2 separate regions of the Homo sapiens genome follow, and region 1 is linked to region 2. The links come from fine-mapping of genetic effects on gene expression. A gene starts in region 2. The other region holds a variant in brackets. All regions are shown on one strand. Distances are from middle to middle.

Evidence for each region. PIP is the estimated chance that this variant, and not a neighbour inherited with it, causes the effect.
Region 1: its variant is the best candidate, but not a certain one, in a credible set for the expression of ATP11C in whole blood (TOPMed, PIP 0.57).

What each region holds. Positions count from the first base shown.
Region 1 is chrX:139,841,195-139,846,569 of GRCh38, forward strand. The region is part of intron 1 of ATP11C (ATPase phospholipid transporting 11C (ATP11C blood group)); the gene reads right to left. Among named protein-coding and RNA genes, the nearest start is that of MIR505, 80 kb to the right of the region's middle. The variant TAAG/T (reference allele first, on the strand shown) is at 3,259.
Region 2 is chrX:139,930,331-139,935,705 of GRCh38, forward strand. ATP11C (ATPase phospholipid transporting 11C (ATP11C blood group)) reads right to left here and starts at 2,723. Exons shown (of 30, transcript NM_001353812.2): 1 at 1,686-2,723. The coding sequence starts at 1,712. RefSeq lists silencers at 1,750-1,909, 1,950-2,189 and enhancers at 2,970-3,319, 3,360-3,409.

The DNA of each region.
Region 1 (5,375 bases), 89 kb before region 2:
AAGTGCTCACTAATAAATGAGTAAATAACAGCATGTAATCAACGGCACTATTTGTTGGGTCATAGTCTCTACAACACTACTGGGCAATCAACTCTAAACCTAGATACTCTACTACAATTAGACAACAAGACTTGTTTCAGTAGTTTTCATCCACACACTTGAATTTTTATAAATACAAAATACTAGTTAATGAACTGTGTCTAAACCTTTCTAAGACCAAAGAATTGTTTCTACAAAGGGTGAGGTGGAGTAGAGAAGGAGAACTGCAGGTTGAAATGATTGGTGGTACAAGGGCTTGGAGAAGAAAGCTATTTGTTCAAATGAAACTCCAAATGAGAATATTAAAATTCAACATTCAAGAGCTGCAGAGAGGTAAGGAAAACTCTCCTTTCATTGATGTTCAAAAGACAAGAGAGAAAATTTTCTCCTATCAGCTTTTGCCATCCCCATGCTGAGACTACAGTGAATCTTGTGTAGAAGAACAACTAGAACACCTAAGTGGTATATTTCAATCACAAAAATTGCCACTTATGAAATTTTCTGGTACCTTGGGATGGAAAAGGCAATAAACAATAAAGTTTTTAAAACATTATACATACATACACATATATACACACTCCATCTTGCTCTGGAGCTCAGAAACAATGGAACCTAGTAAGGTGATTTTTTTAAGTGATTTCCCTAAGGAAAGTTATTTCTTCCTCGTTCCCCTAGCTATTTTCCTGGGACTAGGACCTTATCAGGTTATAACTCAAAGACAGGCCCATTGCTATCCAAGGCTCCACTTATCTTGCCTTGCATTGCCCTGCCCAGAATGCATGAGCAGGTTTTTTTGTTTTGTTTTGTTTTGCTTTTTTGAGACAGTCTCCTTCTGTCGCCCAGGCTGGAGTGCAGTGGTGCAATCTCGGCTCACTGCAAGCTCCGCCTTCCAGGCTCACGCCATTCTCCTGCCTCAGCCTCCCAAGTAGCTGGGACTACAGGCACCCGCCACCACACGCACCTAATTTGTTTGTATTTTTAGTAGAGGCAGGGTTTCACCGTGTTAGCCAGGATGGTCTCGATCTCCTGACCTCATGATCTGCCCACCTCAGCCTCCCAAAGTGAGCAGGTTTTAAATTCCATACATGCCCTCCAAGGGTACCAATCTTCCTCCTGCCATGTGCCATAGAGTAACTCTCCCCCTTTTCTTCCACTCTTTCACCTTTTGCCATTGTGAAAAGTATCAGCTGGGTAGTAGGTACAGGCTGAGGCGAAGCCCAATCACTTCTCTCCTTTTGCTTGCATTCTACCTCTCACTGACCTCTGAGCTAGGGCTGTATCAATTCCTGCAATAGGCAAGTTTACAATCTCATAGAGTTGACAGGAAACACAAGTAGGACATAAGTGAAGGAAGTATACAAGTATATTTGCAGCGCACTGCTAAGTAAATACAGAAGAAAGGAATAAGAGTTGCTGAAATGTAGAGGCTGACTGGGGCTGCGTAGAGTTTGTCTTAAATTTCCAAGAGATTAATGTGTCTGAGCGTTGGGTAATTTTGGCCTCTTGTGATCTAGAATACGATCAAATTAGTTTGAAAATCTTTGTATAATTCACACGTGCCAGGCTCCAAAGCTAGAGTCTGCATACAATGACAAGAGAATTTTATTTTCAGTTGTATACTGTGCTTGGTTTCAGAGCTACTCTAACAAACCTTACTTTCCCTTGCCATTCTAACTTCATTTTCCACTAGTAGTCTCCAGCAAGAATGCTCTGCTGTCATCAAATTCAACTCCCACCTCATTTTCTCGCCAAGTATCTCAGTTTATTCCCAACTGCTGTTCTCTTGGACTGGAATTGTCTGCATGACTCTCCTTGAAAGTAAACTGAAAGTTCAACTAATGCCAAATTCAGCAGCTTAATTAAGAGTCCCTGTAACATATGGAAGGCTGCAGATACATAAAATTGGCGAACCCTTACAAACTGGCTTCCCCTCAAGGTGATCAGCCAGTGATTCTTGAAGCTGTGTCTTATTCTCTTAGGATACAACAGGACTTCTTCTGCAGTAAGGATAAGTAACACCTAAGTGTCTGTTACGTGCAGATGAAGAATTCTATAGATGGACAGATGGAAAGATGGATGGATGGAAGAATTACAAACAGATATGGCTCACTCATTTGATTAAACAGGCCTAGCCCCAAAATCAGAGTATCATTTAGAGTCATTTGAGATCACCAAGGGTCATCAAGTTATGTATGACCAGAGATGAAAATATAGTATAAACAAGGTTGGAGCCTCAATGTTTAACTGTCTCATGAATATCTTCTGATGGGTATATTTTTGATGCTCAAAAATCAGAGGTACTCCAATATTTGCAATTTTAATGGCCTTTTTTCATAGAGCATGGCAATTACCAGGTTGTTTCAAAGAGCCTGTACAAGGGATGATGAAGAACAGAAGCATACTGGCTATGTGTATCAGTTCTACAGCCAGATATCTGGGTTCAAATATTGGTTCTGCCACTTATTAGTTATGTAACCTGGGGCAAGCTCCTTAACCATGTGATGTCTCAGTTTTCCCACCAGTCTCAAAGGGGGTGATTATGTTGATGACAACTTATAAAGCAATTATGAAACAGTGCCTTCATATTGTAAATACTGAAAAAAAATTGTTAGTTGTGTTATATAGCACAATGGAATAATAAATTCCTTTGCTGCCAATAACTAGTTGCTTCTGACAAAGAAAAAAAAAAAAAACTGATGTCCATGGAAAAAAATATAATTCTAATACAAATAGGTGAAATATATCTGCAGGGTTATTACACTTGAAACTCAGGGAGCACAAATGAAAGAAATTAACATTAACTTTGTTTAACTAAAAAACATATATACAGTCTTTGCGAAACAGAAACAGAGAGAAACCTTATAAAATCAAAATGACCATGAATAGTTTTGTAAATGAACTATGCCACGCTAACTAGATAACACTTCTTAATTAGCATATGAACAAAAGACAGAATAGTACATTGTGACTTCATTCAAGACTTCAATAAAACAAAATGCTTGCAAAAAGGAAAGAAAAATCAGCTTCAAAAGGTTCAGCAAAGGTTATGATAAATGACTCAGTTTAGGGTTGAATGCAAGGAGTAGCAGAGAGTGGAGGGCTCTGGGTAAGCACTAGACTGGAAGCAAAAATAAACAGCATGTGTAATCAAATTCACCCAACTGTGTCATACCACGTGGCCCTGCAATACCTGCAATGCAGGAAAGGCCTGGTGCCGAG[TAAG/T]AAGAAAGCACATATGCAGGGCAAGCAGTGGGAAGAAACCTTCCATACTGCCCTGGTAGCACCCTAACTAAAGAGGAGAAGATGGTCAGAGCAGCTAACAGCTCTGAACAAGAAGGGGGCCACAGATTTAGAATTGCAAATGGTTGGCCTCAGACATTCACCTTCTCCTATCATTCTTTCCAAATCAAATCAATAATCTGTGTGTGTGTAGGGGCCTGTGTATTTGTGAGATCCCCTAATCCAAAGGCCTATCCCATTTTATTGAAACAAATATTTAAAGAACATGGAATGAGCTAGACACAGTGATAAGCATAATCCCCATGCTAAATTAGGAAGCTTATCTTACCAGAAAGCCAACTCTATCTCAGTTCCCCCTCTCTGAGTCTGTTTTCCCATTCATAAAGTGTGGGAGTTGAATAAAAAGGTTCCTGTGGTTATCTAATATTGCACAGATTTACCAAAAATTTGTCAAGTTAGCACCCTGAAGATGGAATGTTCAAAACGATAAAATGAGCATAAGCAGGTATTTACTTAAAAGAATGACAGATGATTAAGTGGTTAAGGGGTTGTGAGCAACATTAGGTCCTGGTGGACACACTTGTTTGCCTCTCAGTTTCTCTAGTGCACCTCACCTCCCCAGGGGCTGGACCCAACATTTCCTCCCATCACCGATAAGCCTCAGGCCCAAGGGACCCTGTCTCTTTCTTTAGGGGGTTCATAGCCTCCAGTCAGCTCAAAACAGGCTTCCAGCTAGTGCCCTAGCACTAGCTTGCCTTACTAGAATGCCAGCTCCCTAAGCAGCAGTGGCTCTGTGTTTGATTTAGTGACCAGAGGGCAACGTGGAACAGAACTAAATTAGGAACCCCTACAGAGATTTGCTTTAAAAAACTAGAGAAACCACCACAAATGTTTCTGCTTTTTCATTAATGCATTTATTAACAATAAATGTTTAAAGCAATTTATTTTTATCAGGAGAAGTCAGGGATTTTTGAGAGAAAAGTAAAGGGGAATATATGTAGGGAGTGAAGCAGTGAGAGAAGTCTGAATATATAGTTCAATTATTCCAGTGAGTAGAGGAAATGGAGACCTTGATGTGCTTCATACTAAGTATAAACTACATTAATTAGAGCTTTTAAACATTGAACAATTAAGTTTACATCAATCAAGTTTATACATAAAATACTCTTAAAGGCAACAACACTTTAATTTTTACTGTATTCATCTTTATCAACTACTGTCTTTATTCATAATTCCCTCTATTTAAAGCCCAAAGCTTTCCCAAACTACTGTTCTTGGCAAAAGAACTCTCGCTAATTTTCTGCAATTCTCATTATCCATCATTCTTACAGCTAAAACCTTTAAATCTTTGGAATCACTTTTAAAACACGCTTATGCTTGCCAAATACTGTCCCATTCTTTTTAAATATGCTTGAATAGATTTGCTTTGGGAATAATTACGTTTAAGAAACTGCCAAAGCAACAGGGAAGTTGTACACCACTATAGAGATCGCTCAGATTGTTGTGTGGGGATCTCTGTCACATAAACTTCATTATGGATCTTCGGGTTTCACTATGATCATCCAAAAATAAGTCTGACTTATACGTTCATATTTAAAAGAAAAGTTGCAATAAAGGGCCATGCAATGCTTGACCTTGAGAAACAGTGCCTCTTGTATGAATCCAGGTAACCTCTGGCTATTAATCGGTATGTTATATAACAAACCGGAATAAGCTTTGCTAAGGAGCTTCAATTTTACTAATGTCCAGTTGTTTCCAACCTGGTGAACACTAGATTTCCTTCCTAAATTATTTTTACCCAAAAGAATTCTTAAACAGCTAAATTATAAGACTTTGTGGTATCAGTGGCTATAAATCTCAGTAAGGACCACCTCTGGACTTAATTTAGAGAAATGGAGTATATCTGATAACTAGGAATAAAGAGCTAATCAAAACTGGCTTTGTAAATGTTAAAGTAAGGTTGGGTTAGCAATTGTCCATAGCATTAAGTATGCAATCCATTGTGTAACTCCTAAGGTTTACTTTACTTTTGCTGCTATTTTTTCTTTTTTAAAATAAATTAATAGATTAATAAAAACACAACCACCCAGTTGCTA
Region 2 (5,375 bases):
TTGAGTTGTTCGGTTTCAAATGTTCAAATCCTTAAAAAAAAAAAAAAAGGATTTCAACAACTTAAGTTTAATGATTTTATTATGATTCAGAGCCCAGTTGTTTTCCACCATAAGAGTGCCACGTGAAAAGATTATCCTTTTCCTAAATACAATTAGCTTTCATTGCCACCTTTCCCTTTTTGTCACCCCCACGCAACACTCCAAGATCACAAGAATCTATGTGAAACAGCTATTAAGAACAATACCCGCTTGCATTCTCAGGCTAAATGTGAGAAACCAATTTTAGTCACTTGCTTCAGCAAAGCTATCAGTACAAGCCATCACCTACGGATTTCAAGATGATTGATATGTACAACCTCTACTGCTCTATGCCACAGGTAATAATCTGTTCCAATTTCATACTGCATGTTCCTGGGTGGGGTCAACATTTAGAAAACCATTAACACAGCACTATTCTAAAAAGGGATGTGCAAGTATTACTTTTAGCCAGTGTACACTTGTGAAAGTTTCAAATGAAGGAAAAATGAGAGCAAATATATCCGATGTATGAAAAATGTTAGCAACGTTTTGATTAGGAATAATTGCATGAATAAAACCAAATCGACATGTTCTCAAAAGATATATTTTAAGGCAGGTAGAGGAAAGCACTCAGCTTTCAACCCTTTTTCCTAACTACAGAAAAATCAAAATTTGCAGATGAACCCTTTCTTCCACATCATTGGCAGAAATAAAATCCTATTCCCGCCACCACCTCTTGCAATTAAGGAAGTTGCTACAAATAGCAGCACGGAACGTAAATGGTCCTGTTTCGCTCCATTCTTAATGTACCCTCTAGGAGTAAACAGGTTACTCAAAAAAGTCAGTAGCCAGAAAGCGATTTTCCCTATGGCTAACTCCCATGAAAATGAAATTCCCTTTTCTGGGGATTCTGAAGGGGGTAAACGTGGACGGAGGAGTCCAGTCACAGTCCGCCTTCTCCCATGGGTTCAAGGTCTGGAGTGCTCAGTCCTCCGCGAGGCTTCAGACCAGAGATCGGCAGCACGGGCAGTGGCGGCGCAGCCTCCTCGCGGCTGCACATCCACCCGGCCCACCCTGACAATCACGCTCGCCTTTCAAACACCCTAAAGGTGAGCTTTGTAGGCTGGGTCTCCAAAGTTTGCCCGGCCTCCGGTCAGAAGCCGCCCGCTGGCTGAGCCCTAGGCAAGGCTGAGTCTTGCCCTAGTCTCCGGCTCCCTCAGCCCCCAGCTCTTCTTTTGGGCCACCGTGACAGGTCTAGGTTTACCTCCATGTGCTCGTGGCAGAGGAAACAAAAGAAAGCAACCTCCCTGAGAATAAAACGCCATCTTCGACTAATTGGCAAACTGAGGGGTCCCCGGGTCGGTCCCCCCACGAGTCCCCCCCACCACCCAGCCCGAAGGCGGCCCCCAGTTTCAGGCAGAGTTTGTAACAGCTCCGGGAAGCCCTGGTCGAATTGTCCTGGGGGCGAGGGTGGGATACCCCGAGAGCCCTACCTGCCTCCCCTCCCCGGCCGCCTGGGCACCGTGTTTCGGTGAAAAGGAAGAAGAGGGGTGGTGGTGTCTCCCAGAGACGTAACTGCCCCCTCAGAAAATTGTTGTGAGGGACCCGGCGAAGGGGCTGGCGAGCAAGCAAACCGGCACGCGCGGAGCCGCAGCGAGTGTACTTACAAAACGATTCAAGCTCCGGCGGAACATCGCGTCGAAGGCTGCCGGGCGCTGAGCTGGGCTCTACCGGGCTGTCTGGGAAGGCGCCGTCCACAAAACACACTGCGGCGTGGGCCGGCGGCGCCAAGCGGAGCAGCGAGGCGGGCGGCCGGGCCACCCGCTCGCCGCCTGCCCCCCTCGGCTCTCCGCGCTCCCCCGCCCCCCAGCCGCCCGCAGCCTAGCCGCCGCCCCGCCTCACTCGCGGCCCGCCCCCGGCCTGCCTGACCCGGGGGCGGCGGCCCCGCGGATCGCCCTTATCTGGCCCCGGCACCCCGGGCCGGCAGCTCGCGCAGCACCCACTGAGAAGGCGAGCCCGCCGCGCGGGGGAAGGATGGCGGAGGAGCGCGAGGCTCCTCCTGTGGGGAGGGGGCGCCCCCGTCTCTCCGCCAGCGCCGGGCTCGGCACCCCGCGGGATGCGCTCTTCCCCGACGCGGCACCACCGCCCGCCTCCCCGCTGGACTCCGCGGCCGCCCCCCTCGGGGCACGGGGAACCCTCCCGAGGCACCCCGCGCCTCACCTCGCCTCAGCCCGACACTACTCCCCTGTCTCTGTCGGGAGCCACAGCCTCCCTCGCCCCGGCCCTAACTCGTCCGCCGTGCCGCGCCGCGCCGTTTCGCTCGCAGCCCCTCCTCGGTCCGCGGCTGCCGCGCCGCCCCGCGCTCTGGTCCCGCACTCGGGCCAGGGAGCCTGGGTACAGCCAACCGGCCCGCCCTGAGCCAGCCGACGGCCAGACTCCCTCTTCCGGGCGTGGTGGAGCCGGGCTCTGAGGCAGGGCACCGTGAAGACCCCAGCGCGGGAGGGGCGGGGCGGGGTGCGAGGGGGGACTAGTTCTGAAAGCCCACCCTCCTCATCTGCACCGACGAGGGTTCCCCCTCGACCCTCGCGCCGCTGTACTCCCACCTACGCGGCTTTCCCTCCTCTCAGTCTTTCTCTCGTCCTGCCTGCCCACCTAAGCCTTCTTACTTCCACTTTCTCTGAGGTTGTAAAGTCAGGCTTTGTGTCGTTGCTGCTGCGCAGCGGGGCGGGATTTCCCTGACCCCCACCCCGCCCCACCCAGGCCCCTCCCGCTCGCCCCCTCCCCCTCCTTGCTCCCGGGGCAGCCTGGGAGTTGTAGTCCAACCGTCCCCCTACTTCGCCTGGTACCGCGGGCTGGGAGCTCCCCCACACGCTAGTCCCGGGTTTGCCCAGAGGGTTGAAGAAGGAAGCGCGGGCTGAACAGCGGGTTCTCCACGCCGGCCGGCTGGGTGTGGAGGCCGGGCGCACTCGGTAGCCTTCCTAGCGGTGGGACATGTGAGAAGGCTAAATTAGGCAAAGCTCCGAATCCTGGGAGCTTTCCCTGGAACGCAAAATGTGCGCATCAGGAAACCCTCTACACCCTCGGCCCCCAGCTTAGAGCTGGAATTTGCGAAACTTTAAAAATTACAAAAGAAAAGCGAGTCCAGAATTGCCACGAGGCTGGGCATCCCTCCCAACTACCACAACCCCACCCCTTTTCACCGCCCCTTAAGGCGGGGCCCAAGGCTGTTGGAGAAGAACTTGCAGATTCTTCTATAAAAGTCAAAAAGAAGGAAAGGGAGTTCAGAGACTCTTACACGAGTCTTCCGCCTCGCCGCGTTCTCCTGCCAGTTTAGAGCTGGGGACAGGGCCCAGCCACACCACAGGCCTTCCCAAAGGTCGCGAATAGGCCTTTACTACTAGGCATAGGCGCTTCTCCTTTACCCTCCGGAGTTCGGATTCATTTCAACAAACCTTTGCTGGGAATTTTCTTTGTACCAGGCACTGTGCCAGGGCTGGACACAGCGATTTCTTAAAAGACCTCCCCAACAGGGTGGTCGCAATCTGGTTGGGGGATACAAACAAGCGAAAATGCCACGTTAGAATTTAATAATAGCTAGAGTTCAAAGTGCTAGAGAAATAGGGGAGAGCGACATTGCATCTGAAAATGGGGTTTGGGAAGTTTTCCTAAAAGCCCTGGAGATTAAACTAGCCCTTGAAACGTGGGAAGGCTTTAGAGGGACCTGACTGAGCCCAAGGGGACAAAGTCCAGGGTAGAGGGAGAGGTCGGTGAAAAAGCGCAGGACAAACTAAGAAAGAGATCACGCTGTAGTGGCAGACGCCCAGGACGTGTAGGTAAGGGCGGCTCGAACGAAAGCTAAAATCTAAAACTCTTCAAAAACATGTTACGAAGTTTGAACTTCATTCTGCGATCAACGAGAAGCCCATCTCCCAATAAAATGCAAATGCAGGAGACCTAAGGTTTGTTCCCAAACTGTCCTAACTGCCAAGAAGTAAAACCAACCGTTTTCAATTCTTCCCCTCTTATGATTCCTTCTCTGCTCACAGTTGAGCCTGTATCTAATGATTTTTAAGATTTATGTTAAATTTATATTTATATTAATCAGATATTATGATATTTTATTGACAAAAGAGATCTAAAGTTTTGCTCTCTACTGCTTTAAAGATTTTCAAATAGAGTTATTTTCTAGCTTTCTAGCTTTACCTTTTTTTTTTTTTTTTTTTTGAGACAGTCTCACTCTGTCACCCAGGCTGGAGTGCAGTGGCGCGATCTTGGCTCACTGCAGCCTCTGCCTCCTGGGTTCAAGTGATTCTCGTGCCTCAGCCTCCCAAGTAGCTGGGATTACAGATGCCTGCCACCACACCCGGCTAATTTTTGTATTTTTAGTAGAGACGGGGTTTCACCATCTTGCCCAGGTCTCGATCTCCTGACCTCAGGTGATCCACCCGCCTCGGCCTCCCAAAGTGCTAGGATTACAGGCGTGAGCCACCATGCCCGGCCTCTAGCTTTACTTTTATTGAACACAGCAAATACTGTAATTTCTTCACTAGTTTATTTGTTGAACGACTGCTATGTGGCAGACATTATTCTAGATACTGGAATTGGGAGGTGGAGGAGGTTATTGTCTTTAGTTCTAGGTATAAGTCTAGAATTCTTACCAAAATACATCCTTATCAATAAAATAATAAACTAATTTAGACATTTGGGGATACAAGTGCTTGCTAGTGAATAGTAAATAATATCGTTCCAAATTCAATTCTGTTAAACAAGTGGAAAAAATGTACTTTGCTTATAGATTCAAACAGATCAACTTTAAAAAATATTAGAGACCTGAAATTTTTTTTTGTTTGCATTATGCTCTCATACATACCCATTGTCATGTTACTGCAGCCTAATCACAGGAATTTTAAGATTCCTCAAGATATAGCAGTATTGGGCCAGGCGCGGTGGCTCACACCTGTAATCCCAGCACTTTGGGAGGCCAAGGTGAGTGGATCACCTGAGGTCAGGAGTTCGAGACCAGCCTGGGCAACATGGTGAAACCCTGTATCTACTGAAAATACAAAAATTATCCAGGTGTGGTGGCGGATGCCTGTAGTCCCAGCTACTCAGGAGGCTAAGACAGGACAATTGAATCGCTTGAACCTGGGAGGTGTAGGTTGCAGTGAGCCGAGATCGCACCACTGCACTCCAGCCTGGGTGACAAGAGCAAAACTCCATCCCCACCCCCCAAAAAAGATATAGCAGTATTGTTGATTTTTATTTGTTATAATTCTGCTATTTATTCTCTCAATTTATTTCAATACGCCACCTATACTCATGGGTCCAGTCTAATTTGCTCAACTATAAAAATGCAA